Regions from separate parts of the Homo sapiens genome. Here all the other regions are reported to be linked to region 7. The links are microRNA targets in miRTarBase. Many come from high-throughput screens and were not tested one by one. Region 7 holds a microRNA gene; each other region holds the end of a gene's coding sequence. Distances are from middle to middle.

Region 1 (4,290 bases), not on the chromosome of region 7:
GGGCTGGTGACGAAGCTGGCTGGAGCTCTGCACGGGGCAAGGAGTGCATGGTGGGGGCTGACCGCTCATTTGGCTCCTTGAATCTCTTTCTGATTTCTATCTAGAAGCTCCCGGGCAAGGGTAGGGCCTATGTAGGGACTGGGGGTGGATGAAGCGCATGGCCTACAGTGGACCACTCCAAGACGTGGTTCCCTGGTGCCACGGGTCACACATCTCTCAGGCGGAGGCACTCAGAGAAGGTAAAGCTTTCCTAGCCCAAGCAAGGATGCTCTGCCCAGCTGGCCACCACCGCTGCTGCTGGGCTCTTTGACATCTGCCCAAGGCCCATGACCCAGTGAGGGCTGACAGGGATAGAGATGGTGTGCACTGCACCAGGAGGCGGCGTCATGGTTTCCCCCATCCCTGGTGGCTTTCCCAGGCCTGGGTCCTCACCCCTGTTCCAATGGCTGCCACTTGCCATGAGCCCCTTCGCCACCTCTGCTCCCCGGCTGACCACCTCTGTCCTCTCAGCCCCTGAGTGAGGAAAGGGGGAGTGAAGGGAGAAGTGAGGGTGTGGACGCAGCTCACACTGCACGGTTAGCCCCCAATGGGTGACTAGTCTTGGCTCAAACACAGAATGTGCATGAGGTTGTTTATAAGAAAGATGAGAAAAAAAATCTATCTTCCTGTGCAAAACAAAGCAGGCTGCCTACCAGGAAAGTAAGTCTTCTCATTGGTTAAACTCTCAGGTGGGATCTACAATAGATGTCACCCCAGACCTCCTCTCCACAGGTGGGGTAGATAGCCAAGGTTGGGAGGGTCATCACAGACACTTCTGGGGTCAGAGGACCTGAACTTTCTGGGTCTTAGTTTCCTCATCTGTAAAATGGGAAGAATAATAAGTGCTCCATTGTCATGAGGACTAAGTGAGAGGTCATATACGGAAGTGGTTTGAATACATGAAAAGCACTACAGAGATGTGCAGGGGCTGACTTTTTTGTTTGTCTGTTTTTTGAGATGGAGTCTCACTCTGTCGTCCAGGCTGAAGTGCAGTGGCGTGATCTTGGCTCACTGCAAGCTCCGCCTCCCGGGTTCACGCTATTCTCCTGCCTCAGCCTCCTCAGTAGCTGGGACTACAGGCGCCCGCCACCACGCCTGGGTAATTTTTGTATTTTTAGTAGAGACGGGGTTTCACCGTGTTAGCCAGGATGGTCTCGATCTCCTGACTCCATGATCCACCCGCCTTGGCCTCCCAAAGTGCTGGGATTACAGGCGTGAGCCACCGCACCCGGCCAGGGGCTGACCTTTAACCGAGGGTCCAGAAGCCTCGCGCAAGCCTCGGGGGCTGAAATCACATGTGCAACATGAAGTCACTTCCCACGGGGCAGACCAGGCTTAACAAGGGCAGGCGGCTGGGTCACTTCCCAGATCACTGGAGGTGGAAGGAGACACCCGGCCTCTAGTGTTTCCATGGGAACTTCTGTGGGGCTTTAGAAGCAGGGAGGGCCCACCTGGATGGACAGGGGAGAAGATGAGGCCATGAGCTGGCAAGGGCCTGGTGCCGACCACGGGAGATCACGGCACCTGAGCAGCAATGCGGGTTCGACAGCCAGGTCCTGTGGGCCTGGGGTCTCCCTCTCTGGTGTCTGGCAAGCCCCTCTCCCACTCCTCCTCTCTCAGCAGGCATGAGGCCTCTTGCCAGTCACACAGGAGGAGCGCTGAGTCTCTGTCCAGCAGGAAGAAGTTATAGGAAGCCGTGCGTGTGTGTGTGTGTGTGTGTGTGTGTGTGTGTGTGTGGTGGCAGGTGAAGACAGGGGAAGGCAAGGGGAGTGCTGGGAGTGATCAGGGGCAGAGAGGGGAAAGGACACCTGCTTCCTGAAGGGCTGGCATCTCTGGGGCTAGCATCCCAGGCCCCCTTTTGGAATGTGGGAAACTAGACAAGGAGGGGAGGGGAAGGGGAAAGGGCCAGGGCCTCCCGCAGCCCAGAAGACTGCAGGCGGGGAAAAGAGAGGCCTGTGAGCCCAGCCCCCTCCACCACCCCTGCCCTGTGCTGTCTGGTTGGTGTCAAGTGCAGCGTCTCCTAAGGACCACATCTATTCCTGTCGCTATTCTATGCTAGTGACACAAGCACCGTTATTTTTCACAGGATGCACAAACAAGTCAAACCAAACTACTGCGCAAACCAAACGTGCAAAACAAAACCATTTACACGCGCCTGGCACCAGCCTCGAGCCCCGCCCAGCTACCCTTCTGGGCCTGTGACCCCCCGAGGGTGTGGGCGGGGCGCAGGAGAAGCTGGCGAGGGGCACCAGGAGTCCCAGCCACCCCCATCCCTGCCCCTACACAGGGCCAGAGGTGGGTTGGGGGAGATAGGACGTCCTGGGCATGGCTGGGAAGCTGACATCTGTCTGACTTGGGAAATGTCACCACGGGGCCTAAGGGGTGGGGGAGGAGGCCTTTACTTTGAAACCACATCTGCTAAAGTGCTCTGGGCAACTGGCCAGTCAGCCAGGGGGCAGGGCACTAAAGTCTGGGCTTTCCCAAAGCCAGCGGAGGCAGGAGTGAGAGGAAGGGCTGGCCAGGGCTCTATGCATTGGGCTCTGTGCATAGTGTGGGCTTCCTGGGCCCCAGAAAAGCCCGCCGAGGCCAAGGCAGAAAGGACTACAGCAGGAGGAACACATCTCAAAGTGCCTGTTAGAGTTGGCTCGAAGCACAGTGAATCACTTTGCAGACATAGGGAGGGCTCCGTGGGTCCCGGGGCCCCCCTCGGGTGGTGTGCCACCCAGCCCAGCCTCTCCTGCCCCTGCAGCTTCGGCTGGAGAGTTGCGGGCTGGTGGCGGCGGTGCGTCCTCACTCGGGGGGCTTGGCAATGCCTTTACCAAATGCCACTCGACCTGCCTCCGGGAGGAGCGAGGATCCGAGCTGAAGCTCGCTTTGGAACATGGTCATCGATCTGAGAGCCTGCAGGGAAGGAAGCACAGAGGGTGAGACGGGCTCTTGTGCCTGCTAACAAACCACAGACACCCTCTCCTGGAGGCTCACTGTGTGCATGGCCTGAGTGAATCCTCACAGCCACTCCATCCCATCTTATAGATGAGGAGACAGAGGCTCAGGGAAGTTAAGTGACTTGCCCCATGTTGCAGTGTGTAAGTGGCAGAGCCTGGACTTGGACCCAGGTTTTCCTGATTCAGAGCCGACATTATTAACTGCCCACTGTGCCAACTTCACTGCCCCATGCCTAGGCATACAGTCTCTCGTACATGCAGGTCATTGGCCAGCCTGTTGGCACATGGGCCTTTGTACATATGCCTCAGTGAGTAAGCGAGAGAGAAAAATGAGGGTATGCCATTGTTTCGGAAAATGAAAGAACCACAGCCCAAAGGCCCCGCATCTTGAAATCCCATGACTTAGTTACAAAGGGAGGGTCTATACAGGAGAAGGATTGAAAAAAAAAAACAAAAACAAACAAAACACAAAGGGAGGGAAAGGGAGGGTCTAGTGCCCCGGAGAGCCCAGTGGGACATTCTTCAGCCTGGCCTGCTTAGAACAGACAAGATTTGGGGTAGAGAGGAGGGGACAGGCTGCCTGATGTTTGCTGTCTGAGCGGGGGTTCTGCCCAGTCTTGGCTCTCAGGCAGGAGAAGAGGAGGCTGCTGGTCAGCAGGGGCCCTGCAGCTCTGGGGTCTTGGTGCCTCTCGTGGGTCTGGCTGCAGGAGGAAGGCGGTGGGAGTCCATGCCTCCGGGACTGGCAAGACCTGAGTGTGCATAAACAAGTCTTCCATGCCAGGGTCCCTTTCTGACTTCACTCATGGCCCGTCACTGGTGGGAGTGGCAGTGGCCCTCAGAGTAGCGGAGCCATCATCTCAGGAATGAGACTGGTCCTGAGAGAGGACCCCTCCCCATGGGCTACCAGCACCTCCAACAGGGACCTCATCTCTTCTGCCACAAGCTGCGCCTGGCCCAAAGCAGGGCACACAGGAGCCTGGGCAGGCAGGCGCTGACCCATTGGCATCCCTCTGGTTTAGCCCTCTGTTCTCACAGCAGGATGGTTTGTGTATGGGGCTTGTCTCCCCCAGTAAACTCCAGGCTGTGGGTGGAAGGACCAGGGTCTTGCGCCTCTCGCCGTACCCATCCCAGCACAGCCCTTACTGAGTGGGTGCTTGGTCTCTCTCTGGGCTTATCCTGAAGGCAGCTCAACTGTGCTCAGGGAGACTCAGGGTCCTAGCCCCCTGCAAGTGGTGGTGACAGTTCCCACCTAAGCCACCTGGAGGCCCGAGGCATCTTACAGCCTCTGCTTGTTCTCCACTGAGGA
Region 2 (4,290 bases), not on the chromosome of region 7:
ACTAATGCAGGCCTTTAGAAGTGAGTGTAGCCCTCACACTGGGGCTAGGAGATCCCTGAGGGAGGCGGAAGATACTCTGGGGCACAGGTCCTGTTCTGCCTCTTGATCTGAGTGTGCCATGCTCCTGAGAACGCATCACACTGTGCCCTTGCCATGTGCACACTCCCCTGCCTGTATGGCAGTGCGTCACCAGAAAGGGAAAATACTGCCGGTCTCAACCCACGAAATTGATTTCCTGGCCCATTAATGGATTGAGACTCTATTTGAAATACATCTCTGACTGGGCGACAGGATATTCAGTAATTTCAGGAAGGGTCTGTTTCTTCACGGAGCATCGTGATGGAGTTATCGAGAAAGGTGCATTTTGGACGGCTAGGGAGGGAGAAGGTGGGGTGTTTTTTTGTTTGTTTGTTTTTTGGCCGCTGCTGTAAAATAATGTCTCCTCTCCTACGGGACAGCCGATGCCAAGGCCCTACCGCCAGGTGAGCTTCCCGGACGACGACGAGGAGATCGTGCGCATCAACCCCCGGGAGAAGATCTGGATGACGGGGTACGAGGATTACCGGCACGCACCCGTCAGGGGCAAGTACCCGGACCCCTCGGAGGACGCGGACTCCTCCTACGTGCGCTTCGCCAAGGGCGAGGTCCCCAAGCATGACTACAACTACCCCTACGTGGACTCCTCAGACTTTGGCCTAGGCGAGGACCCCAAAGGCCGCGGGGGCAGCGTGATCAAGACGCAGCCCTCCCGGGGCAAGTCGCGGCGGCGGAAGGAGGACGGAGAGCGCTCGCGGTGCGTGTACTGCAGGGACATGTTCAACCACGAGGAGAACCGCCGGGGCCACTGCCAGGACGCGCCCGACTCCGTGAGAACTTGCATCCGCCGGGTGAGCTGCATGTGGTGCGCGGACAGCATGCTCTATCACTGTATGTCGGACCCCGAGGGAGACTATACAGACCCTTGCTCGTGCGATACTAGCGACGAGAAGTTTTGCCTCCGGTGGATGGCTCTTATTGCCTTGTCTTTCCTGGCCCCCTGTATGTGCTGTTACCTGCCCCTTCGGGCCTGCTACCACTGCGGAGTGATGTGCAGGTGCTGTGGCGGGAAGCACAAAGCGGCCGCGTGACTCAGTTTCCCTCCCTTCTCCCTCCATCCGCAGCCACAGGGGAACTCGTCTCTTACATACTCTCATCTTCTCCCCCGCTCCCTTCCACTCCAAGGAGCGAGGAGGGCAAGCGGCCTCCCAGCTCCCTGGTACCTCGAGGCACCATTCCAGCCAGGGACGCTGCCGGGTAGACTCTCCACTCCCCCTGCCGCCCACACTGCAGCAGCCACATCCATACACACACGCTCGCACAGTGTTCTGAGGAAGGAACCTTCGCCACAGACTCCTGTACTATTAACAATCTGTAACCAAGCTAACTGTCTCATCCATGTGTTGATTTCCTGTTTCCTCCTCCCCCGCCTCTTCCAGTTCAAAGGAGTCTGCAATTGGAACTGCTGATTTTCGGTGGGTTTTGTAGTTGATTTTTCCAAGAGCGTCGAAGACTCTCTTTCTCTTGGTTCACCTTGCCTGTCGCTAGCAAGCATCTGGTTCAGCGGAAATGGGATGTGAGAATGATGAAACCCGACAGAAGTATCTCAGCCTGCAGTCAGTTATTATGTATAGGAGGTGAGCTAGTTAACAAACTTGTACCACAAAACAATATCGCTTTAACTTTTCTAAAGCCAAATTTCCCATGTAAGCTGCAGTTTCTATCTTTAGCCCATCATCATTTTCTGCCCCCCCAAAATCTGTTGAAATGATTCACTGATGCAAAACATTCACCCGTAATAGACTGAGAATTGAGCCTTAACTTCAGATTAACTTGTGAGAATCAGGAAAATTCCTTCAACTGCATTGCATCCTCTTGGACCAGGGCTAGAATGGGGATTTCAGGTTTCTATGAGCCTCCCCATTACCCCTAAAGTAGAACATTTTTTAAATTGTGTTGCCACCACTTCTAAAAATTTAGCAATATTAGAATAGGATACTAGTGAAGTAAGAAATTTTGCTTGTTGTTTTGCAAACCAAATAGTTTCCTCAAACACAAATCAGTGTTCCCACGAACAAGTTCCAGTTGAGAAACACTAAGGTTATGGTGAATAAAACCATAGGGAGCTTCTTCCCCCCAACCCCTGGCTATTTTATATTAATGGGGAGAGGGGATTTTTAAATGTCATAAATTTGAAGAGTGGTGGGTTGCATTTTCTTCATGGGTTTATGTTTTCGTTTCATTTTGGACTCAATTTCACATCACCAAATTCCTCATTTATACTTGGGGAAAAAACAAGGCCATATGTAAAAACCCTTCCAATGCCTAAGTGTCTTTCTCCTGCAACTCCAAACCCAGACTCGCCACTTTGGGTGCACAGGTGGTTAGGTCAGCCAACTGGTTCTGCCTGTCGCCTTGCCACGGAGGAGGCTTCTAATTAGCTGGAAAAGAGTATTTTTCTAATACGTTGCAAGGATTAGCCAAATCTTCTTATTGAAGAAAGAAGAAAAGTGAAGAGTGGTTACCTATACCTAGCATAGTACAATCAGAACCTCGTGGAGACCACCGGGGACAGGCTTGCGGACGCCGGCTGTTCTTCCCGCCACGATCTTTCTGTGGTAGCGGCCAGCAGAAGACATGGCCTGCTCCCCACTCCCTTTCCCCACTCCTTCTTTATTGCACACAGGACACCAGTCTTCAAGGAAAGGGACTTTTTTCCAGTCTGCCAATCATATTGGGAAAGTGCTAGCTGTGCTCACCTTCATGGGGCTGTTTCCAGCTCGTCCACAAGCTCATCGATTTTCTTTAGTAGATTACCGGTGTAAATACCCAGTGTGCTTATGAGTCAGTTAGTAGACGTCTTCATTCATTGGAGTAACTGGTTTAGGCTTTCCAGTTTGGAAAAGGAGCAGAGAGCTGTCCATCTGGATTGATGGAAGAAAAGAGAACCTCATCCATGCCTGGAGAACATCTAGAAAACCTTCAGCCAGCCTCCAGTGCTGTCGAGAGACCACCTTCCCCCGACCCGGAGGCACTTCCTTGGGGTCTTTCTCTAGGGTCTCTTCTCTACAAAGCACAACACTAATGTTCGTTTCCTTAGACCTCAGTTCAAGTGCCCCTATTTATTTCAATAAGAACGCACATATCCCAGCTGTTTTTTGTTTGTCACCTCTATTTAGTTGTTACCTGTTTCTCTCTTCTTTCACCCCTTGTCCTTTTCCACCCTTTTAAGAGTTACGCTAGCAGATCTTACTCCACGTATACTTTTTGGTTTGTGAAGGCATCGGTTAAGGGCACAAAGACAGCCATGGGGACATTTATGTAAATACGTCTCTAATTGCCACACTGCAGCTGAACAGTGTGTAGTATTTTCCCAGTCAGCTTTGCCATACTGACGTCAATCATTTGAGAGAAATTATTCAGATTTTATTTTTGTATCTGTGGTAACAAAACATTAACCAAAAGATTTTCTGTCCAGAAGCCTCCCCGACCCCCCAAGCTATTTGCTCACATTAACAAATTAAAGTGCCTGAAGCATAATTCATTCTTTACCTGTATACTAAAAACCCTGTTGTATTGATTTTTTTATAATAAGCCTTTTTACCTCTGTGTAAAAAATATATATACAAGTGTATGATGTACATTTTAGTTCTTAACTTTTTTTTATGGTTTCTAATATGTATGACCAATGTAGCCATTGCTTTAAAATGTACCGTGTAAATATAAACACATCCTATCAGATCGCTGGCTTTGGGGTATTTGTCTGGCAGGAGACGAGGTGATGCTAGAGCGTTGGCAGATCTTGGAGTTCCCGCATACAGGATGGGACAGGGCTTCCTGTGCCGAAGGACATGTGGACACCGGTCTGTTTTTTCAAGGCCCTTTCCTCCTATGGTTATGTCATATTCCCAAGGGGAGACTGCAGCTCCTTGGGCTCGGATGCCTCAGTGAAAGGAAGGCTGCAGGCCACCGCCCAGGAACACCCCCTCTTCCTAGGCCTGGCTTCCCCAACGAGCGCTCCTCAGAGGGAACAGCTGTACTTCCTCTAAGTTGTTTTCCACTGATCCCTGCTGAACCTCAGGGATATGTGTGTGTGTGTGTGTGTGTGTGTGTGTGTGTGTGTGTGTGTGTGTAGTTTGGAGGACAATTTCTCGCAGAAAACAATTGTTAACACTGCAAGATGCTTGGTCTCCTCCGAGCAGCTCTCTTTGGCCCACTTTCCTTTCCAAATTGACACTTTGGATGCTCCAGAGC
Region 3 (4,290 bases), not on the chromosome of region 7:
GACGACCTGGTAGAATCTCTCTAACCATTTGAAGTTGATTTCTCAATGCTAACTAATCAAGAGAAGTAGGAAGCATATCAAACGTTTAACTTTATTTAAAAAGTATAATGTGAAAACATAAAATATATTAAAACTTTTCTATTGTTTTCTTTCCCTTTCACAGTAACTTTATGTAAAATAAACCATCTTCAAAAGAGCTAGAATAGCACCTGTTTTGAATATTCTTATTCCATCGTGACTAATATCAAATTAAAGCTGCAACTCATTTGCCTAATTTTTTAAGCAAAATATGATAGGCAAACCTATGCTTTTTTTAAAAAAGGCACCACAAAAAACAAAACTTAGTAGCCAGCTTTAAAAGTGTTAAGGAATGTGTTTTGCCCTCTAGAAACCTTTATAAATGGCTTTTTGAATGCCATCCTGATATATTTAGCTATTTGTCCATTACTATTAAACTGCAGAAGGTATTTCAACTGTTACATGGTACTGAAAGCCAGTCGTCTGGGTAATGAATATTATTTTTCTTTAGTTACCCGAAAACATTTCCAAATGGGTTTTTAAAAAAAACCAGATATATGATTTTGAATAGCTGTCTACATCAAACTCTTACGCTAGTATAGATAAGTAGGTAGCAGCAAATTGTATATTCAGTTGTGGTTGTTTTTTAATTTTGTTTTGATGTAAGGTCTTGCTATGTTGCCCAGGCTGTCTCAGACTCCTAGGCTCTAGTGATCCTCTGCCTCAGTTTTCTGAGTAATTGGGACTACAGGCACACATCACCACAGCCTTATAATTAACCTATTAGATCCTATAAGTGAATCCGTGTAAGTAGATTATAACAGTTACTAGGAATTTTGCAGATTAAATATGTTAGAGAAATGTAATTCAAATTGAAATGAGTCAATATAAAAATATGAAAGCACAGACTATTACAGCAAATTACTTACATATGAATCATGGCCAGCTGTATTTCACTATGTGACCTTGGTAAGTTATTAAACCTCTAAGTGCCAGTTTCCCACACTGAAAATGGGGAAGATAAAAATGCCTACTCTTCATAGGATTAATTAGAATAGTACCTGCATACACTAGTATTCAGTAAGTGTTAACTATTATAATTGGAACCAAACTGTGGACGTCTGTTTACCAAGCCAGATTTTTTTCAGGAAAACTGGCTTGAAGGAATTCCGAGTAATTCAAGTGTCCTGAATCTAATTAAATTGCACAAATACACACACCTCCTCAGTCTCAGTACATCCCAGGCTGTACTTTCCAGAAAGGTAGGTACCATTATAGTTACATCTATTTTAAGGCAATACTTACTATATGCATATTCATCTCTCTAACAATAATTCTTTACACTGTAGGCTTGAGTTTTGTGGGTTTTTTTTTTTTCTCATTCCAGAGTGAAAGGAATAAAATTCGTGATGTGAGATTTTTACAAAAGCAGAGTGGAAGAAGCCAAAAGTTATAAATCCTCCATCGCAGTCCTAGTTAAATATATTGCTGCTAGGCTCTAGACAGAATTACAAGATGTTCACAATTTGTCTCATTTTCCCTTTCAGATCGCCAAACTTTGGCATCAGAGCAAGGTCCACACTTATCACTGAAAATTTTCCCACCCAGCCCCATTAAAAACGTTAAAGTGTGAGAGATTTTATTTCAACACTGACAAGCTAGTTACTAGAGGGCCTACAAAGGTAAGTAACAAGTTTCCATTTCAACTTGAGAGACAAATGATGTTAAAATATAAGAAGCAGGGTAAGTCAGGTTTGTGATTTTAAATAAAAGGGAGAAGGATTTCAGACTGAGGAATGACAGGTTAGTATGGCTAAAGATTGAGGTGTGATAAATGGGAGCCAAAGTGCACAGCAAAAATATCTTGACTAATCCATATCCTCCCTGTCTTCTATCATGTAACCAAGGAAGGAGACCACCTGGGATACTATGTTGGTCCAAGTCCAGCTAAAAAACAGAAGGGGTGGAAAGGAGAGTAATTTGATAAAAGAGCCAAGAAGGGAGAGAATGGAATGAATTGAGCTGATTTCAAGGAAAAGGAGCATGGGACATGTTGAGATTTTTGGTATCAGTGTTAAACGGTGATTGAAGCCACATAGGTTAGCAGCCCCCATAGAAATAACTGCCTTTTGTAGCTTGGAACTACTAAGCAGACATCTTTTAAGCCCTTAGCATTTTTTTTTCCTGTATTTTATACATTAGAGGAATAGCATAAAGTGTTGCTCTTGGAATCTAGGGCTTTCCTTACTGTGGGAACACCTCCTTGGGTTCCTGTCTCACTCACTTTGATTACCAATGTCATTCTGCCACGTATGTTCCATATGTCCTATCTATCTGCCCTGCACAATTATGAGAGGGAAGGAATTATTGCATTTATAAAATCCTTTTCAAAAGAGGCCATTAGCAAAAATACTAATCTAAAGCTTCAGCTTCTCCCTGGGCCTTGCTCTGATGCTAAGGTTTAAACTGCCCCTGAAGGAGGAAGAAAATAAATAAATTAAATGCTTAGCTCTTTTAGACAGAAGTAATCAATTATGCAAGATATCCCTTGGTTTTATTTTAACTTAACCTTTGTGAATACTTCACAAAAATACACATACAGAAGTAAATAAAACTATACAGTTGAACTAAATATCCAGCAGATACAACAAGTAGTCAGAAGTTCAAAGATGGATAAGTTAGGCAGCTGATGAGGTTGTCTGCATAATCAAAGGGGTAGCACAAATAATGAACAAATAACTTTTAACAAAAGCATTCTAGTTAACATAAAAGAAATTGGTAGTCTATAAAATGGTTGAATGGGTAACATGCATTGATCAATACAACAACCAATAATATTTACTGAATTCAAACTATTTACTTGTAAACATTTAACAAAGCATTATGAGATCTAAATACAGTCTTTGACAATTTCAACAAAATAAGTCGTATGTTTAAAAAATAAAGCTGATGAGCAATAGATCATTCTATATATTTTCTTTCAACAGTTCCAGCAAGAGAAATAGCAGAGTATTTTTTAAAAGTATACAGCAAAGATTGTTCCTATTATAATGACAAACTCTGGAAACTGTAAATACAAATAATCATTGAACAGTCAAATGGTCATATTCCTAATCAGGAAGTAGTTACAGTAAGAACAGTCTGCAATCCAGTTATACACAATTGTCAATAAGAATGTGTTTCTTGTCAGTTGATTTCATAGTTCTTTCTCTAAGAGACAGCAAAACTTTGGCAACTGGGTGTACTGAAAATATATTTTGAAAGTTCGAGATATCAAGATACAGTCATAGCATTTCGTTTTGTGAAAGGTGGTCTGTACACCAAGGCTCAGAGGTTGTTAAAGATTGATTCCATGTGGAAATAGTGCAAATATCCTGCACAGATAGCTTACAAGGTTGCTGGCATAGTTATTCACCAGCAGAATCTTGGATTTTGTTTGCATAGCTCACACATCACTGGAATGTGGAAAAGTGTGCTATTTTTTGGCAAGAGCAAAGGAGACATTAAACTGAAGTGAATTACCATGTTGGACATGCTGAATCCATGCAGAACACTGGGGCGAAGGCTGCTACCTGACATCATTGGTTTTTGTATACTGGTTTTGTTTTTGTTGAAGCAGTTCTGTTATAGCCAGAAGCTTTTTCAATACGTGCTAGACAGAGGAAAAATGGTATGAAAATAAATGAAAGCTCGGTCAGCAATTTCAGGATGGGAACCTGGATTTGAAAAAAACTGTATCAAAGCAAAAGGATGCATAAAATATTACCACAATTCCCCTCAAAACATAAGTCTCTATTATTCAGTCATTGGCTGAGTATTTCTGGTCATAACTAAGAGAATTTTTATACCCTAAAGTGAACAGAAATTTGTTTGTGTTTGGCATGCTCCTATTTTTTAGGCCAGAACTATCACACTATCACATGTTGTCAGAAGCAGTTTATCTCTCTTTTAAAAAAGGCTTTTTTTATTTAATATCTAAGGCAAGTCAAGTCATATTATTAGTTTTGAAAGCTGCGGGGGGAGGGGCGGGGAGAAACAGGACTTGAGGATTCTAGAATCTCAGGTTGTAGAGAACTCAGTCACCAAACTCAATGCTTTAATCCCTTCTACAAAATCCCTGCCAAATGGTTAGCCAGTGCGGTGACAGCATTCACTATCTCCTGAAACTACATTAGAAACTAGTCAAAACTGTCCCTGTGGTCACTTCCTCTCAGTAGCCCTTATGTCAGCTGAGGACATTCAAAGTGTAACTCATTTTGTTCTATATCTCCA
Region 4 (4,290 bases), not on the chromosome of region 7:
ACAAAGCAAGGCCTGTCTCTACAAAAAAAAAAAAAGCAAAAGAAAAAATTAGCTGGGCATGGCGATGTGCACCTGTAGCCCCAGCTACTCTGAAGGCTGAGGTGGGAGGATCACTTGAGCCCAGAAGGTTGAGGCTACAGTGAGCTGTGATAGCACCTCTGCACTCCAGTCTGGGCAATAGAGCAAGAACCTGTCTCTAAAAACAAACAAACAAACAAACAAAAACACTCCTATCTTAAATGTAATGTGGGACACTGGAACAGAAAGAGGACATTAGTAAGAAAACTAGTGACACACAAATACAGCTTGCAGTTTCACTGATAGTGACATGCTATGTTGGTTTCCTAATTGTGACAAATGTACCCCAGTACTGTGGGATTTTAAGAGAAGAGAAACTGTGAGGGGTGGGGCATAAGGGAACTTTCTGTATTGTTTTGTGACTTTTCTGTAAATCTAAAATTATTTCAAAATTAAACTTTTTTTTTTTTTGAGACAGTCTCGCTCTGTCACCCAGGCTGGAGTGCAGTGACGTGATCTCGGCTCACTGAAACCTCTGCCTCCCGGATTCAAGCAATTCTCCTGCCTCAGCCTCCCGAGTAGCTGGGACTACAGGCGTGTGCCAACACGCCCGGCTAATTTTTGTATTTTTAGTAGAGACAGGGTTTTACCATGTTGGCCAGGCTGGTCTTGAACTCCTGACCTCGTGATCCACCCACCTTGGCCTCCCAAAGTGCTGGGATTACAGGCATGAGCCACTGCATCTGGCCTAAACATTACTTTTTTAAAACTCCTATGTACCTCCTAAAAAGAAGGTAATTCGGTCTCTGGAAGGTTCTTTTGTCTGCCTATGGCGCACTTTTGGGTGTGGGTTTACAAATCAAGGCACTGGAGCTAACTCCATAGGAGAGGGAGAAGAATCTGGAATTCTCAGCCTGAAAGTGCAGGGATGAGAAGAGACAGGCAGATGGGAGAGGAGCTTAGACTGGAACGGGGCTGGGCTGGGGCCAGGAAGCCCCTTGCGAGGGACTTTGCAGAACAGGAATGTCCAACACTGACGCTACAAACTAGAGATGCACAGGCTGGAGACCACCTCTACACATGTGCTTGTTGGTCCTCGGTTTTGTCAAAATAATTTGAGCCAATACATAAAAAACAGCTGATCTCACATGAAAATTGGAATTTCCAACTTCTCTGGAAACATCTGAAGATATGCTAAGTCTCTGAAAACTTAACCCCCTCTGCTTCCTAAAATCAAAAAGGAAGTCCTGAGGTTAACTTCAACCAAGGTTGCAAGTTCCCCTCTGTAGCAGGCTGAGTGGTGGCCCCCAAAAGCTTCCCTTGTCAAACCCCTGAACCTGTGAAGTGACCGTATTTGGAAAAAAGGGTCTTTGCAGATGCAAAGGACCGCTAGATGAGATCAGCCCGGATTATCTAGGTGGCCTCTAAATCCAATGACAAGTGCTTTTATAAGAGAAAGACAAGGCTGGCCAGGCGCGGTGGCTCACGCCTATAATCCCAGCACTTAGGGAGGCCAAGGTGGGCAGGCCATCTGAGGTTAGGAGTTTGAGACCAGCCTGGCCAACACAGTGAAACCCATCTTTACTAAAAATACAAAAATGAGCCGGGTGTGGTGGTGGGTGCCTGTAGTCCCAGTTACTCAGGAGGCTGAGGCAGGAGAATCGCTTGAACTCGGGAGGTGGAGGTTGTAGTAAGCCAAGATTGTGCCACTGCACTCCAATCTGGGTGACAGAGCAAGGCTCTGTCTCAAAAAAAAAAAAAAAAATTGAAATACTACTCTACCAGTTGGCACAGAGCCCTCCTCCTGGGACCCCAGAGTTCTTCACAATTCAGCAAGTAAGAATAACCACCGCAGGGGTCTTCCTGTGTCCGGGCCCAAACCTCCCTGCTGATTGAGCTGTCCTCCTGGGTAATATTTCTTTACTGCATGGATTGGGGTGGGTGTCGGGTGCCTGGGCCCCGATGGAAAAGAACAGGTGGCATTTGTTGGGCCTCAGTTCAGCTGTCCCGGGAAGCACAGAGGCCCCTGGGATTTCAAGGCAACGTCTCTATCCCCCTGCGCAATCCCCGTGGAGACAGGCAGACAGGAATGTCTACACCAGAGACCCTGGGATGGGAGGAGTGCAGATGGGGCTCCCAGACACAGGGGGAGGCCCTGGACCACCCAAAGTCTCTCTGCAACTCCACCAGAGAGGGCTGAGAGGAGAGCCGTGGTCTGGTGGAAAAACCTAACTGGGCGATGAGGCAGTTGGCCCAAGTAGAAGTCAGAGGTTAGGGGTAAGAGGTAGTACACTTTATTGACCGGGTTCTCTCAACATGTTGCAACCTCTGGCAAAGCCAGATCCTGGGCTTTGCCACCATCCCATCCACCAAAGACAGAAGAGAATGCATCTCATGAACATCCACGTGGCCTCCAGACAGCAGAGCACAGGGGCGGGTGTGGGGAGGGAGGCTGCCAGCCAGGGGTGGGTGGACGAGGGGCGAAAGCGCTGGGTGCCGGGCTGGGGGCACCCCTGAGGCCCCTCCAGACCTGGCCAGCCCCTCACTCCCCCAGTTGAGGTTTCGTGTGGTTCACAGTGAGACTGGCTTAGATTGGCAGCGGGCGATGGCAGACAGATGCCCTCCACGCTCCCTACCCGCCCTGGCCAGACTCACAGAGCTGGCAAGAGGGAGAGACGGAAAATCCCGTTCCCCGTGTCTCCCTCCGGGACAGGGAAGCCCCTTCTCTGGAGGGGTAAAGGGGAGAGGCCTAGTCTCTGGACATCCCCCAGGCTACTAAGGAAGGGCCATTCACTCCTGGCTCAGAAGTTTCTAGAACATCTTGGTGAAAGTGCCCGCCATTACTCCCAATTAGAAAAAGGTTTTTGAAATCTAGGAGTTGACTGGGGTGCCTCAAACCAAACAGTAAAAACCCTGGTAAGACCTAGGTTTAAAAAGGCAGCTCTACCTTTGCTTAGGAGGCTAGGGAGGTCCGTGAAGGCGTTGGCTCAGGGCAGCAGGGGTAAGGAGTGCCCTGGGAATGGGGCAGGGACCAGGGGCAAGATGCAGGAAGCGGTGATCCATGGGACATGGCAGGTCGTCTTTCAGTGCTGCAGGCCTGGGCTCGGAGGGCAGCTGGGGGCCTCCGTGGGCACATCTGCCAGGCAGGCACCGGGTCCTCTGCCCCACCGGGAGAAGCAGGGGCCCCCCATCAGGCCTTGTGACTGCCGTTGGCTACAGGCTCGTTGTGGCCAGCTGTGAAGTCTGCGGCGGGCTGAAGCCCCAGCATCTGCCGCTGCACCAGCTTGGCGTAGAGGCCGCCCTGGGCCAGCAGCTGCTGGTGGGTGCCCTGCTGCACTACGCGGCCCTTGTCCAGCACCACAATGAGGTGCGCGTGCTCCACGGTGCTCAGCCGGTGCGCGATGATGAGTACCGTGTGCTTCTGCAGGTTGCCATGGATGGCCTGCTGGATCTGCGGGGACAGTGGGGGCCTGGCTTGCATGGCACGGACGCCCCACCCGCAACCGTGCTTCATGCCACGGCCTATGGGCTGATGCTTAACCTCTCTGAGGCTCAGTTCACAAACGATGGCCAGCTTCCTGGGTTTTTCTTAAAGGGAGACAGCTCAGGGCCAGACACAATGAGGCACCTGGTGAATGGGGGATCAGCTCTACCCTGGCCCTCCAGTCTTCTGGTCCTTCCCTTCCCCCTCCTTTTTTTTTTTTTTTTTTTTTAAGTCTTGCTGTCACCCAGGCTGGAGTGCGGTGGTGCGATCTCAGCTCACTGCAACCTCTGCCTCGTGGGTTCAATCGAGTCTCACGCCTCAGCTTCCCAAGTAGCTAGGGGATTACAGGTGCCCGCCACCATACCCAGCTAATTTTTGTATTTTTAGTAGAGACAGGGTTTCACCATGTTGGCCAGACTGGTCTCGAACACCTGACTTTGTGATCCGCCTGGCCTCGGCCTCCCAAAGTGCTGGGATTACAGGTGTGAGCCACCGCGCCTGGCCTTCCTTGTTTCTTATCTGCCTTCCCCACTGGAATGGAAACACCATGGGGACAAGGGTCTTTGTCTAGTTAGCCCACGATAACCCCAGAATGGTGCCTGGTGCCTGGTGCCTGAGAAGAGCTCAGTAACTCTCTGTGTAACAAATGAATCAATCCGCGCATAGACTGAGGTTGCTAGCCATCTGCAAATACATGACTGGGCCCACCTGACCAGTGAGAATGCGACTCAGAGGGGAAGCACTAGCTTGAGGTCACACAGTTATAAACTGTAGGACGGAGCTGCTAA
Region 5 (4,223 bases), not on the chromosome of region 7:
TTCGTGTTTCAAGGGCCAAGTTTCAAGGATCTGCTTTTTGGTTTACTGGCAAAAAGGGAAAACTTCACAGTTTCAGGTTAAGTACACAGACCACCCAGCATCCATGATGCCCTCTGTTAAGGAAAAAGGTTTCTCCAGCACATTTATCTGCTCTCAGCCACTCGGCTGGTTCCTGTAATTACCACCTCTCTCACACCAGCATTTCAAAAATCAGTCCTCACCAACAGTCTGGGAGGGATTGCTCATGCTTGAAAATGTAGCAGACACTTGACTGTAGTCTGTTACACATTTCCTTCTTAAATTCTAATGGTCAGTGTGAGTAAGAAAGGGAGAAGCCAGTCAGCAATGAAGAGTCTCAACACTGCTTTCCTGATGAGGATGTCCTCAGAGGACACTGAACAAGGTGGGTTTAGATGGTCAAAGGTGGACCTTTAAACTGGCCACTGTACAAGTCCCTTCATCTAATGGTCACCCCACCAGAGAGCCAGGCACTCCAACTCTGAGGCTTTATCAGTTCAGGGCTGGGGAGAAGCAGCAGGTCCAACAAGGATGGAGCTTTGGTTTGTCTGACATCTCAATATAAATAAAGACAGGAGGCTTCCAAACTGTGCAAATAGGTCATTCATGTCACTTGTTCCCCTCAACCCTGTCCCCAATCTACTCCATCACAGGAAGGAAGGGGGATGAAAGGCCTGGAATTTAACTGTCCCGAACTTTATAGAACATACACCCATGGCCTAAAGTGTTCCCTGGGTTTATTATGCTAGAGACAATCTGGAGAAGAAGAATTTGCTTAAGGGCTTGACATGTCTTCCCTTAGTTATACCCCTGGTTCTCCACATCTCTGGTCAAGGCTGTTCTCTGGAATATGGCTACTTGCTGGGGAGAAACTCATTTTCCTAAAGTCTCTTATACAAAAGAGATGCTGGGTAATGTGTATACAAAAACAAAAATAAATAAATATTAATGTCCAAAAAGGCTTTGTGAGTTAATGAAAACCACTTGCTTGTGAAACAGCCCGGGGTGTTGCTGAATCCCACCAGGGGCAGTGCCAGGGCTGAGGCCAGGGACTCCCAGAGCTCACCTGAGCAGGGTGAGGTAGTATGAGCTACTGAGGTGGCACCTCACAAGTATGCAAGATCGAGGGCCCTATCCCTCAAGACTTCTTTGGGCAAAGCCCCTTAGAAAACCAAGTAAGAGTGGAGCTAACCAGCTGCGTGGGCTGTGCCGGCACACTCTGCAGCCACCCACGGAGGGCCTGAACCAGCTGCCATCCAATAGCGCCCCCTGGAGGTGATGGCAACGACAGATCAGGATAAATTCCAGCAGGTCAAAGGTGAGCTGACAAAGCTCCGGCACTGTTAGCACAAAGTAAACAGGTTACCCGACTAGGACAGACAGTCAGAACGCACACCCTGCTACACACCACCAGTTACTCAGGTCCCTTTAATCCTGAAGGGCTCGCGGTCTGCCACTCCACCACTTCATGGAGTCAGCTCATCTACACCACGGGCCAAACACTTCTGGACGGGAGACCAGATATAAATTAAGGCAAGGCTGCTGCTGTCAGATACATCCCCACCTCTCCACCAAGACACTCATGGCCAACAGAAGTGGCCAAAACAGATGACTATATCAAAGTGGTTCCCTATCCTCTCTGCCCCACAGAAGGCCGGACGTCCCGGGCCATCACTCCATAAAATCCTGTTTCTTTGGAAATGAGGAGAAAAGAGAAACCTCTCCTGTCCATCCAGGCTGCCACTTCTGGTGGCACTGCAGGACACCCCTTCTGGCTGGCAGGGGTTCATCCCAAAGCTTTCTGACCTAAATAGAAAGCTCTGTGCCTAGTATGGATCTAGCTGCCAAAAGATTTTCACTGTTCAATCAGCAGATTAGGGCTGTAGATAAGCAGACACCAACATCCCTGATGTCTTGTCCCTGCTGAGGGCTGGAACCTGAGGGGACTGCCCTGCTGACCTGTCTTTTCTGAATGATCACATTCCCAAAATCTTTCTCATTGCTGGTCATCCCAGTTGGAGGCCTGCAGTAACACCCACAGTGAAAACCTCCCTTTACCTCCTCTGTTAAGTGAGGCTGTTGGTTGGATTCTTAGCAGCATAAAACCTATCAGTAAACTAAAACTAGAGAGGCTGGGGAAGGGGGTCTAGTGGACACCAACTGCTTGACTAGATCCCAAAACCAGCCTCAAAAGAATGAAAAACATAGCCCTGCATGGGCAAGAACAGGTATGGAGGTAAATGTGATAGGGCTGTTGCTTCTCAACAACAGTAACAGCTTATGTGCTATTTCTTCTTCTTTTCTTCTTTAAACACAACACAGAACAGAATTCCTACCAAGGCAAAATTATAACTTCAGCTGGGGAGGGACCAACACCTCTTAGATATCAGCATCCTGGCTGCTGCTTGGGAGCTCCCCGTGGCTCTGCCGGGACCCAGTCAACTGTCCGGGTTCTTATCCGCCTCTTTGGAATGGATGATGTACATGAAGGTCTGCTCGATGGTGAAGTCAGGGGGGAGGCTGCCTTTGTGCACACCAACATGTTTGCTCATGAGGTTAAGGGTGGAACTGTAGTGCCCACAGACTGTGCAGCGGTACATGAGGGCCCCCGAGTGTGTCTTTAGGTGGCACTTGATGGTCGAGCGGCCTCGAAAGAACTTGTGGCACACCTTACATTGGTATGGCTTCTCCCCCGTGTGGATCCGCCGGTGGTAGTTGAATTCGCTTGTGTGGGCAAATCTTTTGCCACAGACCTTGCAGCTATACTTGCTGTTCCCAGGTTGGCCCTGCAGCGCCAGCTCTTCACCCAGAAACTCCTCTGCTGGCAGCTTCCGCTTCTGGAGAGCTGGGTGCTGCAGCCCAAAACCAGGCCGTGCATCAAGGCCACTGTTGCATTTGTGCTGGCTGACGTGGTAGCGATAGGCAGCCTCTGACTTGAAGCTCTGGCTGCACAAGCGGCAGTGGAAGAGGGCGTCTTCCAGACTTTGGTGCACAGCCATGTGCTTCTCTAGAAGATGCCAGTCCACAAAGCTGTTCGCACAGACAGAACAGGAGAAGACTGAGATGCCGAGATGGGACAGCGTGTGCCACATGAGGCTGCAGAGGTTAAGGTGACGCTGGTCGCAGACACTGCAGGCCTGGCCCTTCAAGTTTAGATGGTCAAGGATGTGGCCCCGGACCACATGGAAATCTTTGGCCAATACTTTCCCACAGGCAGCGCATTTCAGCTCTGGGGAGGCTGCCCCTGAAAAGAGACCCAGCTTCCCTGGCAGGGGATCGTTGGGGTGGACAATGATGTTGTTCTCAAATATTCCATCCCGTCGGTGAAGGGTCAGCTGCCACTGGGTAAAGAACTTAGTTTCACACATGTCGCAGGAGAAAAGGAAAATACCAATGTGGGACAGGACATGAGTTACCCGGGAGTTTCGGTCCTGGAAGTGGGTCTCGCAGACCTTGCAGTTGCCCGTCAGCAGGTCCACATGGTCCCGAGCATGCTGCCGGATCAGTTGAATGTTGGGCTCTAGAACTTTCTTGCACACCTGGCAGGGCATGGCCTTATTCTCCCGATTGTCATTCTCTCCAAAAGCCAACTCATCCTCACTGTCATCACTCAGCTCAATCACCTCCTCAGTTGTGCCTATATCCTCAGCAGGGTCTTCAAACTGCAAGTCATCATCCCCCAGGTCCTCGAGCTGGAGCTCATCCATCTGCCCAAAGCCAGGATCTTTGGAGTGCTCACTATTGCTCAGACAGGAGTTGGTCCCAGTGGTAATGTCTACTGCATTGTCAGGGGTGAGGAAGCTGTTTTTACTGAAGTCTCCATTGCTTTGAACTTTGTATGGCTGGCAGGAGCTCGTGCTGGTCTGGATGCCCGTGCTGACAGTGCCTAGGAGTGGCTGGGTCATCATGCTAGGAATGGACGTGAAGGGAGCAGGGGTGTCATGGTCTTCTGTCTTTGGCGGTGGTGGGGGCGGTTGCGGCAGATGCAGGCTATGGTTAGCGTCACTGGCAACATTCTTCTCTTCCTCTTTATAGCTCCCTCCAGCATCACTGGGCAACACATAGTTTCTATCAGCACCAAGGTAGTCCCCACCACCTCGGAGTTCTCCAAGGGGATGGGCAGGTTCTGCCGAAGGACAACTCAGGGTACCAGAGTGGCTCTCACTGGTGCTGGTCAGGGGCTTGGCCCTGGCAGTGCTCTCCAG
Region 6 (4,290 bases), 93 Mb from region 7:
ATCTCAATGGGCTTGTCAGCCCATTCCCACAGCACTTTAAAACAACACCTCACATTCCTATAGGACTGGGCTAGGAAGGATGCTCTTCTACCCACTTCCCAGGACATGGGGCCAGACCCTCCCACTCCTGCAGAATCCCTATTATTATTATTATTACTATTATTAATTATTAATTATTGCCTTTCTCCAGCACCCCTTGCTTGGCAAATGGAACCCCCAGATATTCTTCCATGAGGGGGTTTTGCTATCAAGCCTAGGGTGATCCTGGCCTCCCCAAGATCCGGCTCCAAGAAGATTGCAGGAGTCCATGTTTTCTTGTCCCACTGTAACCCCAGAGCCTGGCACGCTGGCTGGCATGTACTAGATGGGCAGTAAATCAGATGAACAGGTAGATTGAACTTCCTGTCCTTGAACACCTGTTCTGGGTCAGGCACTCATGTTGTTATCTTCCTTCATCTTTCTAAGAAATCCCTGGATGTGTGCCCATTATTCCCATTTTAGAGGTAAAGAAACTGAGACCCAGAGAGTAGGAGCCACTGGCCCAGCTGGGATTTAGAAGGGGGTTGACCCCACACACGGTGCTCCTCGGCTTGTCCCCAGCCCTCCCCATGTGTAACGAGCCCACTCACTTCTCTCCTCAGGTACTATGCGCCTGCAGGACCTACCTCAGCCCAACCAGCTGCCAAGTGGCCGCCCACAGCCTCTCCCCCACCAGCCCGGAGACACCGGCACTCCATCCAGCTCGACCTGGGCGACCTAGAGGAGCTCAACAAGGCCCTGAGCCGGGCCGTGCAGGCTGCCGAGAGCGTCCGCTCTACCACCAGGCAGATGAGAAGCTCGCTGTCAGCCGACCTGCGCCAGGCTCACAGCCTGCGGGGCTCCTGCCTCTTCTGACTTCACTGGGGGCCCAGAGGCAGATGGGTGGGTGGGTGGGCAGGTGGCCTGCCAGGCCAGGAGTGGGCTGGAGCTGCTGAGGCCCAGAAGGCCCGCATAGTTCCTCACCAGGAGGGTCTCCCTCCAGCACAGGTCCCGCCTGCTCAGTCCCTGTGCTTTCCAAGTGGAGGGGGTGTCAGCTCGGTCACCAAGAGAAGTGACTTCCCAGGAGCACCAGTCCCCTCACAGAGGTGCTGTGAGCGAGGCCTCCTTCGGTCCAGGCAGAACCTCAGGCAGTCTCTCCTGGTCCTGCATGTGTGCAACTCCAGCTAATAATAGGTATTTTATATACAGATGGACAGATATTTTTTTAAACTGGGGAGTTTTCCTGATCTTGGGTCCTCTTTAGGGGGCCAGACAAGAAAGGCCTACGGTTTCTGGAGCAAACCTGTCCCCCACCTGTGACCAGTCACTCTGGGGCAAGCATCACTGGGAAGGGCATAGCCGGAGACCTTTCTCCTAGTGACTGGTAGTCAGTGGGGCATTTTAGGATGTCAGGGCCCCAGGGTGACATGTGTCCAGCTTTTCTATGGCAGCAGAGGCCTTTCCCTCAGACAAGCTACAAAGTGCCCAGGATGCCATCCACCATGGTCCCCTTCAGTACCTCACGCATGGTCCCCAGCTTCTCCTAGGATCCCAGTGGCGTTTATCAGTGGCCAGCTACCTGCCAGGCCCGGGCTGGGGCACGGTCTGCGGCCATGAGGCCAGGCCGCCTCCCGCACCCCTACCCCGTGGCAGCAGCATACCTCTGCATTTCTGGAATGTGTGTGCATCAATGATGTTTGTATATTTGAGGCATTTAAAAATCTATTTTCGTTACGAGGGCAAATGAAGAATGAATATTGATCTTAAAAAAAGAAAAGAAGACAAAAAAAATACCCAAAGCCATCCGTGTCTCTGCTGTATGTCATTAACTTTTGCCTTCAATGTCAAGTTTATGGGGTGGTAGGTTTGATGCCCAGCCAAGCCCTTTCCCAGGGGACCTGTTGGGTGCTCTGCCTGCCTCCCTCTGGTGGCTTCTGTTTCTCCAGTTTTCCCCCTTTGCCTATCTCAGAACCATAAATCTTTCAACTGCGGAGGGCCTTGAGGTGGGGCTGCCTAGCCAAGTCCCTTTTGACTGAGGCCAGAGATGTAAATGAGGCACACAGCAAGTTGCTGTCTACAAGAGTATGCACCTGGACTCTCCAGTGCTCCTTTCTTTCTTTTTTTTTTCTTTTTTCTTTTTCTTTTTTTTTTTTTTTTTGAGACTGAGTTTTGCTCTGGTTGCCCAGGCTGGGGTACAGTGGTGGAATCTCGGCTCACTGCAACCTCCGCCTCCCGGGTTCAAGTGATTCTCTTGCCTCAGCCTCCCGAGTAGCTGGGATTACAGGCATGCACCACCACGTCTGGCTAATTTTGTATTTTTAGTAGAGACAGGGTTTCTCCATGTTGGTCGGGCTGATCTTGCACTCCCAGCCTCAGGTGATCCACCCACCTCAGCCTCCCAAATTGCTGGGATTACAGGCGTGAGCCATGGCGCCCAGCCTTCCAGTACTTTCAGTAGCAAACAGCACCTGCCATTTAGGGAGCACCTGCTAGACCCTGATTCCGGTGCTAAGCACTGGGCATTGTCTGCTTCACACAGTCCATGTGCTAACCCTCAGGACCCTCACTCTGCCCCCCTTTTACTGATGAGGAGAGTGGGGTTCCAATGGGCCATCTGCCCAAACTGGTTTGGGAGAGAACCTGGATTTAAACTCACATTGGTCTGACCCAAAGTCCACATTCTTTGTTATGTGTGTTTTTTGCTTCCTCTACCTCCATGATTCTTTTTCTCTTGACCTCTGGTTTCTTCCTCACGTGGCTTTTTCTTCCATGTTCCCCACTTCTCGTCTCCCTTGCTTCTCCCTGCTCTGCCCATCATGACTCATTTCTGTTTCATTTTTCAGCGGATCCTCCTGAGTATGGTTGAAAATGGTGTCTCACTGAAAGTAACACTGAAATGGACAAACTTCCTGTAGGTTCTGAGCCTTCAGTTCCAGGACATTGTGGGACCCCAGAGGCTGTCCTGTCCACTTGCCTTCTGAGGACATCAGCTCGGTGTCCCCAGCCTCCGTGCTGTGGGCACAGCTGTGGTTTGGGTGCTGAGCAAAGGATGCTGTAGTCTTGGCCCTGTGGAGCTTGGCTGTTGGGACAGGAGGTACAAAGGGGAGTGGTGCCTGTGGACACAGGACTAGACCCCAGGACATCAGGGCCTCGGGCTCATGGTCCTATCACCCTGGATGGTATACGCAGCTGCACACGTGGAATTGCTCAAACAATTCAGGCCCAACTTTTCTGCCACGGAAGGGGTGCTGCTTCCCTCACGTAACAAGAGGCTGTCAATCACGAGCACCCAGGTTGGGGTGAGGCCGGCCCTTTGTGGCTTGTGCCACTGAGTGGGCTGTGCCTCGGGCTTGGCTCCACCTCAGGGCTCCACATTTGCAGGATGTCAGCTGATTTCCAGGGACCAGCCTCACCCTTACGTGTTATCTCCTTCTTCTGGGTCTCCCAGGTGAGCACCCTAAGAACACATCCATGGAGACACCCAGCCCCTCTGGCCTGGGCCCCAAGCCCTCTGCATCACCCCAGCCCTTCCCTGCCCTGCCCTGTCCTGGCCCAGGCAACCGCCTCTTGCCTAGTTGCCCACAGCAGCCTTCACTCAGGCCTTCCTGCCTCCAGCCTGGTCCCCACAACGTGCCTCCCCCGATGGCCATGGTAATACTGGAATAAGGTCCTTGTGATAGGCACCACATGCCTGAACTCTCCCCACCCCATCCACCTTGTATTTGTCTGTTCTCACATTGCTATAAAGAACTACCTGAGACTGGGTAGTTTATGAAAAAAAGAGGTTTAATTGACTCACAGTTCCGCAGGCTTCAGAGGAAGCATGGCTGGGAGGCCTCAGGAAACTTACAATCATGGTGGAAGGCAAAGAGGAAGCAAGTCCCTTCTTCACAAGACAGCAGGAGAGACAGAGCGAAGGGGGAGGTGCTACACACTTTTAAACAATGAGACCTTGTGAGAAACAGCACCTGGGAGGTGGGGCTAAACCATTAGAAACCAGCCCCGTGATACAATCACCTCCCAGCAGGACCCGCCTCCAACACATGGGGCTGAAAATTCCATGTGAGATTCGGGTGGGGACACAGAGCCAAACAATATCACACCTCCACTCCTGTTTAGGGTCTTCTGCCTCAAGGTTACTCAAATGCATCCTCTCATTTCCTTGCTTGCAGCAGAAACAGAAAAGGATTTTTTTTTATGACTAGTTGAAGTTTTATTACAATCTTGCTATTAGGAGAAAGGCCTTACAGTAGTCTCAGTTTAGAAATTCAC
Region 7 (4,203 bases):
GTTAGGTTAGAGTTTTGCAAGAAATTTGTTTAAGGTATATGTGGTGAGGGTGTGGGTTTTACCAGTAACCTGGTGAAAGCCATGATTCTCAGGATATATTAGAGAAATTAAAGAAAGCACCTCAGTTTCAACAGCAACAGCTTCTTCAAAAGAGTACAGTTTTTTTCTAGACTTTTCAATTACACATTGAGAAATTATTTGATAACCTAAAAAGTAAGTTTTCTTCCTCCTTTTAAATATTCAGGTATCTGCTACATCTGACTGGTAAATCAGATAGTTGCTGTTATTCAATTTTCTTTACAAAATGAATCTGAATTTTTTTTTGAGAAAAACCTCGCTCTGTCATCCATGCTGGAGTACAGTACTACAGCCTCAAACTCCTGTGCTCAAGCAATCCTCATGTCTCATTCTCCCAAGTAGCTAGGACTACAGGTGCATGCCACCACAGCTGGCTAATTTATTTTTATTTTTAGTAGAGATGGAATCTTGCTATATTTCTCTGGCTGATCTTGATCTCCTGGCCTCAAGTGATCCTTCCACCTTGGCCTTCAAAAGTTCTGAGATGTACTCAAGACCATGCCTGGCCTTGAATCTGAAATTTTTATGTGCAAAATGGAACTGAAAAAAGTCACAAGAAATTACTGTTTTCAAATATGTACCATATACCTTCTAAAATGATGCAGCTTGTACCTGCCTCTTAATTATGAATATCAGATATTAGTAATATTTTTTAAAATAATGAGTTTATTGGAGAAGCTTTATTCAGTTAAATCTTCTCAATTCAGAATTTTGTTACCTAACCTGTTTTGCATTTGCCATTAATTTTGATTCAATGCTCTGTACTTAATGATCCCCAAATTCCTAAATACCCTTACATTAATAGATCATGCAATTAAGTTGAATTGTATCCTAGGAAGTCAATTAGTACCTCTTCCACAAGTTACCTAGCCTCAGGACAAGATGTTACAGGCTTTTGTGCAATAGAACACTCATAAGTTCCTACCCTCACAAGAACAGACACCACATACTGTATATGCGTGGGTGACTGCATATGTGTATATCTAGTACCAGGCTTAGGTAATGCTGGACTTTTGTTTCTGGCAAAGGCAATTGATACTAGAATCATATTTAAAAGAGTATGCTTCTTCCTTATCTATACCTTGGTAGCACTATATAACAAAATGTTTTACCTTTATAGGTTACCTTACACTCCATTTTGGGTAAATAATACGTATTACTTACTAGTTTTTTAATAGAGACATATTAAAGAGGAAAGCAAACATAATTTATAATCCTATCCAATTTTTTTATTTAAAATAATAAATTGCTCATTTATCCTTTAATAAAAAACATGTATGTATGCCCTCCAGGTATGTGTCTGTGTATACATTTTCACTTGCACAAAAGTTATACATAATGTCATTATTCTTATGCCTTACTGTTTTGTAAGGACCACCAAATATTCTGTTGTATAACTATATTATTTATTTAGCCTGTATCAATCATACTGATGAGTGTTCAAGTTGTCTCCAATCTTTTACTATTAAAAACAGTGTTGCAGTGAACATCCTTGGACCTAGAACTTAGTGGTACTTTTGCAAATGTACTTGTGAAATAAGTTTCTAGCTGGGAATTTTTGGCTCAAAAGAGCATTATTTTTGGCAGGGCATGGTGGCTCATGCCTGTAATCCAAACACTTTGGGAAGTGGAGGCAGGAGTATGGCTTGAGTTTAAGGGTTTGAGACCAGCCTGGGCAACATAGCGAGACCTTGTCTCTACTAAAAATACAAAAAAAAAAAAAAAGAGTGATGGCACACACCTGTAGTCCCAGTTGCTTGAGAGGCTAGGGTGGGAGGATTCACCTGAGCCTGGGAGATTGAGGCTGCAGTGAGCTATGGTCGCACCACTGCACTGTATCCTGGATGACAGAGCAAGAATGTCTTTAAAAAAATCCAAAAATAACATTATTTTTAAGAGCACATAAAGCAGTGAACTAACTACACACTGCTGAGCCACAGTTTGTTATTGTTTAAATACATCTGAGTGGCAGAAATTGACCAAGTAAAGTTATTAGAGTAAAAATAAAATTGTACTGAGAGTCACTGGGATATTTTGTGGACTATAAATATGGTGGTAATAGCCTATAATTAACTGTCATCAACTTTAGACATTATTGATTTAATAAAATTTTTGTCACAATTTCATCCCTGTGGTTTCACAAGTAGTCCATAAACATTCTCGAGGTTCATTTTAGATCAAAGACCATTAAAAAAATGGAACTACCCACAAACCTCCTGTGCCTAACTACATCTTCAAAAGCGGACACTCTAAGGAAGACTATGTTGTTATGATCAGAAATAAGTGCGCTTTCAATTAATGAGTGTGTTTTCCCTCCCTCAGGTGAAAGGAAAAATTTTGGAAAAGTAAAACACTGAAGAGTCATAGTATTCTCCTGTAACTTGGAACTGGAGAGGAGGCAAGATGCTGGCATAGCTGTTGAACTGGGAACCTGCTATGCCAACATATTGCCATCTTTCCTGTCTGACAGCAGCCATGGCCACCTGCATGCCAGTCCTTCGTGTATTGCTGTGTATGTGCGCCCTTCCTTGGATGTGGATTTCCATGACATGGCCTTTCTCACCTTCCTTACTTCCTGTCCTGCTATGTATTGTGTCCTACCATGAATTCACTCCATGCTAGCCACATTGGCCTGTATGGCTATTCCTTGGACACACCTAGGATGTTCTTGCCTCTTAGCTTGCCTACCTTTCTCTCATCATTTGGGCCTCAGCGAGGATATCATCTCCTCAGAGAAGCCTTCTGTGACCATGCTATCTAAAATACTCCAGCACTTCAGTCACCCTTTATCCCATTACTCTGCTTTTTCAGAAACATTGGTGCTCCCTGAAACGTATTTGTTTACTTGCTTAGTGTCTTTTCTCCCGCACTACCATGTAAGCTTCTTGAGGGTTAGGGACCTTGTTAGGGATAACCACTGTATCCTTAGAGTGTGACACATAGTAGGTTCTCAATACATATTTTTGAAACTCTACCCTGATGCAAAAGAGATATCAAATAATTATAGTTTTTGCATTATAAATGTCTTTGGTGAAATCCCTGGCACAAAACTAATAATAAAGAAATAAACAGATAATGTTGAGTTCTGGGCCTGCAAACCTAACTCTTTAAAGCAGTCACAGTAAATGTGTCATTGGATCCATAGACTTGTGGAAGTCAGCATATTTTATTGGGAAAAGCATGAGCTTCAAAGTAAAACTTATGGTCAAATCTCATTACTGGTGCGTTCTTAAGTCATTTAACCTCTGAGCCACAGTTTACACAAATGTAAAATTAGAGTAATAATAGTGACTCCATAGGACCCTCAAGATAAGGAAATAAGGTATTTTAGTCAGATGATTCTTATCACATGTCTAAAAATTTAGTGTCTCTAAAATTCTTGATATATGCATACCAGTAGACACTCAACACATTTATTTCACTACTAAGAAAAAAGTTTTCTTTAGTTAGAGACAAGGGATTTTATGTGAAATGTGTGGAAATTCTATGCCAGAACGATAGTACATGTAGAATTCTTTGTAAAGATAGAAATCTTGAGAGACCAAGGAGTTAATTGTCAAGGATCTCAAGTTCTTCTCCTGGTTAGTTCACATTCCTCATCTTCCTTTGTTTCTGGAGTTACTCATTATCTGTAGATCTCTTTTAAAAGTGGTTTTTACACATTCACTTTAAAGAGTAAGAATGTTCAGTAAATACAATTGTATTTTAATGTTTAATAAATACTAATGTTTAATAAATACTGTTTGATGTTTCATGTTTTTAAGCATTGAAGTTTTAATAAAAAGCTTTGCTTTTAATAAATAAAATTTCATGTTAATTTTAATGCTTTTCCAAGAAATAAAGTAGCAGTCACTATTCTCGATTGTCATTATTTATTATTACTCAGGGTATTAAAACATACAGAAAGATCACATTATACCTTCATTTCATGCCTCTTGGAGTATATTAAACTAAGCTGCTAATTTAACAAAAATGTGTAGCACAAAAGTGAGGTAGTTTTAGTCTACAACTTTTATAAGCATCTCTTTATATAAGGATAATTTGTTTAAAGACATCATTGTACAAGCTGATCTTGCCTATGAAGGCTTTTAAGAACTCACAAAACAGCTTTAGCTGAAAATTAGA

The links. The annotated mature microRNA hsa-miR-31-5p reads AGGCAAGAUGCUGGCAUAGCU and lies in region 7 at 2,475-2,495, shown strand. An mRNA with a match to its seed (bases 2 to 7 or 8) in the 3' UTR can be bound and repressed. Matches are read on the target gene's strand: a 7mer-m8 pairs with bases 2 to 8, a 7mer-A1 pairs with bases 2 to 7 and ends in A, and an 8mer does both.
Region 1: miRTarBase lists DPYSL5 as a target of hsa-miR-31-5p. Seed matches in the 3' UTR shown: 7mer-A1 at 1,627-1,633 and 7mer-A1 at 1,525-1,531.
Region 2: miRTarBase lists SPRED2 as a target of hsa-miR-31-5p. Seed matches in the 3' UTR shown: 7mer-A1 at 2,451-2,457.
Region 3: the mRNA of RASA1 is a reported target of hsa-miR-31-5p. Seed matches in the 3' UTR shown: 8mer at 3,502-3,509.
Region 4: the mRNA of ABCB9 is a reported target of hsa-miR-31-5p. Seed matches in the 3' UTR shown: 7mer-m8 at 3,055-3,061 and 8mer at 2,679-2,686.
Region 5: miRTarBase lists ZBTB39 as a target of hsa-miR-31-5p. Seed matches in the 3' UTR shown: 7mer-m8 at 2,236-2,242.
Region 6: the mRNA of AKNA is a reported target of hsa-miR-31-5p. Seed matches in the 3' UTR shown: 7mer-m8 at 2,268-2,274 and 7mer-m8 at 3,584-3,590.

Annotation. Positions count from the first base shown.
Region 1 is chr2:26,945,560-26,949,849 of GRCh38, reverse strand. DPYSL5 (dihydropyrimidinase like 5) reads right to left here. Exons shown (of 13, transcript NM_020134.4): 13 at 1-2,940. The coding sequence ends at 2,855. Among named protein-coding and RNA genes, the nearest start is that of MAPRE3, 23 kb to the left of the region's middle. RefSeq lists an enhancer at 1-281.
Region 2 is chr2:65,310,338-65,314,627 of GRCh38, reverse strand. SPRED2 (sprouty related EVH1 domain containing 2) reads left to right here. Exons shown (of 6, transcript NM_181784.3): 6 at 459-3,777. The coding sequence ends at 1,127. Among named protein-coding and RNA genes, the nearest start is that of ACTR2, 85 kb to the right of the region's middle.
Region 3 is chr5:87,390,180-87,394,469 of GRCh38, reverse strand. It overlaps RASA1 (RAS p21 protein activator 1), which reads right to left. Exons shown (of 25, transcript NM_002890.3): 25 at 2,554-3,670. The coding sequence ends at 3,587. CCNH (cyclin H) reads left to right here. Exons shown (of 9, transcript NM_001239.4): 9 at 1-196. The coding sequence ends at 24. Among named protein-coding and RNA genes, the nearest start is that of CCNH, 21 kb to the left of the region's middle.
Region 4 is chr12:122,926,703-122,930,992 of GRCh38, forward strand. ABCB9 (ATP binding cassette subfamily B member 9) reads right to left here. Exons shown (of 12, transcript NM_019625.4): 12 at 2,290-3,469. The coding sequence ends at 3,209. Among named protein-coding and RNA genes, the nearest start is that of VPS37B, 33 kb to the left of the region's middle. RefSeq lists an enhancer at 3,216-3,716.
Region 5 is chr12:57,000,323-57,004,545 of GRCh38, forward strand. ZBTB39 (zinc finger and BTB domain containing 39) reads right to left here. Exons shown (of 2, transcript NM_014830.3): 2 at 1-4,223. The coding sequence ends at 2,457. Among named protein-coding and RNA genes, the nearest start is that of ZBTB39, 4.1 kb to the right of the region's middle.
Region 6 is chr9:114,333,658-114,337,947 of GRCh38, reverse strand. It overlaps AKNA (AT-hook transcription factor), which reads left to right. Exons shown (of 22, transcript NM_001317950.2): 22 at 642-3,792. The coding sequence ends at 894. Among named protein-coding and RNA genes, the nearest start is that of ORM2, 5.9 kb to the right of the region's middle. RefSeq lists an enhancer at 3,406-3,906.
Region 7 is chr9:21,510,450-21,514,652 of GRCh38, reverse strand. It overlaps MIR31 (microRNA 31), which reads left to right and starts at 2,468; the gene lies at 2,468-2,538. All of the region lies in intron 1 of MIR31HG (MIR31 host gene), which reads left to right.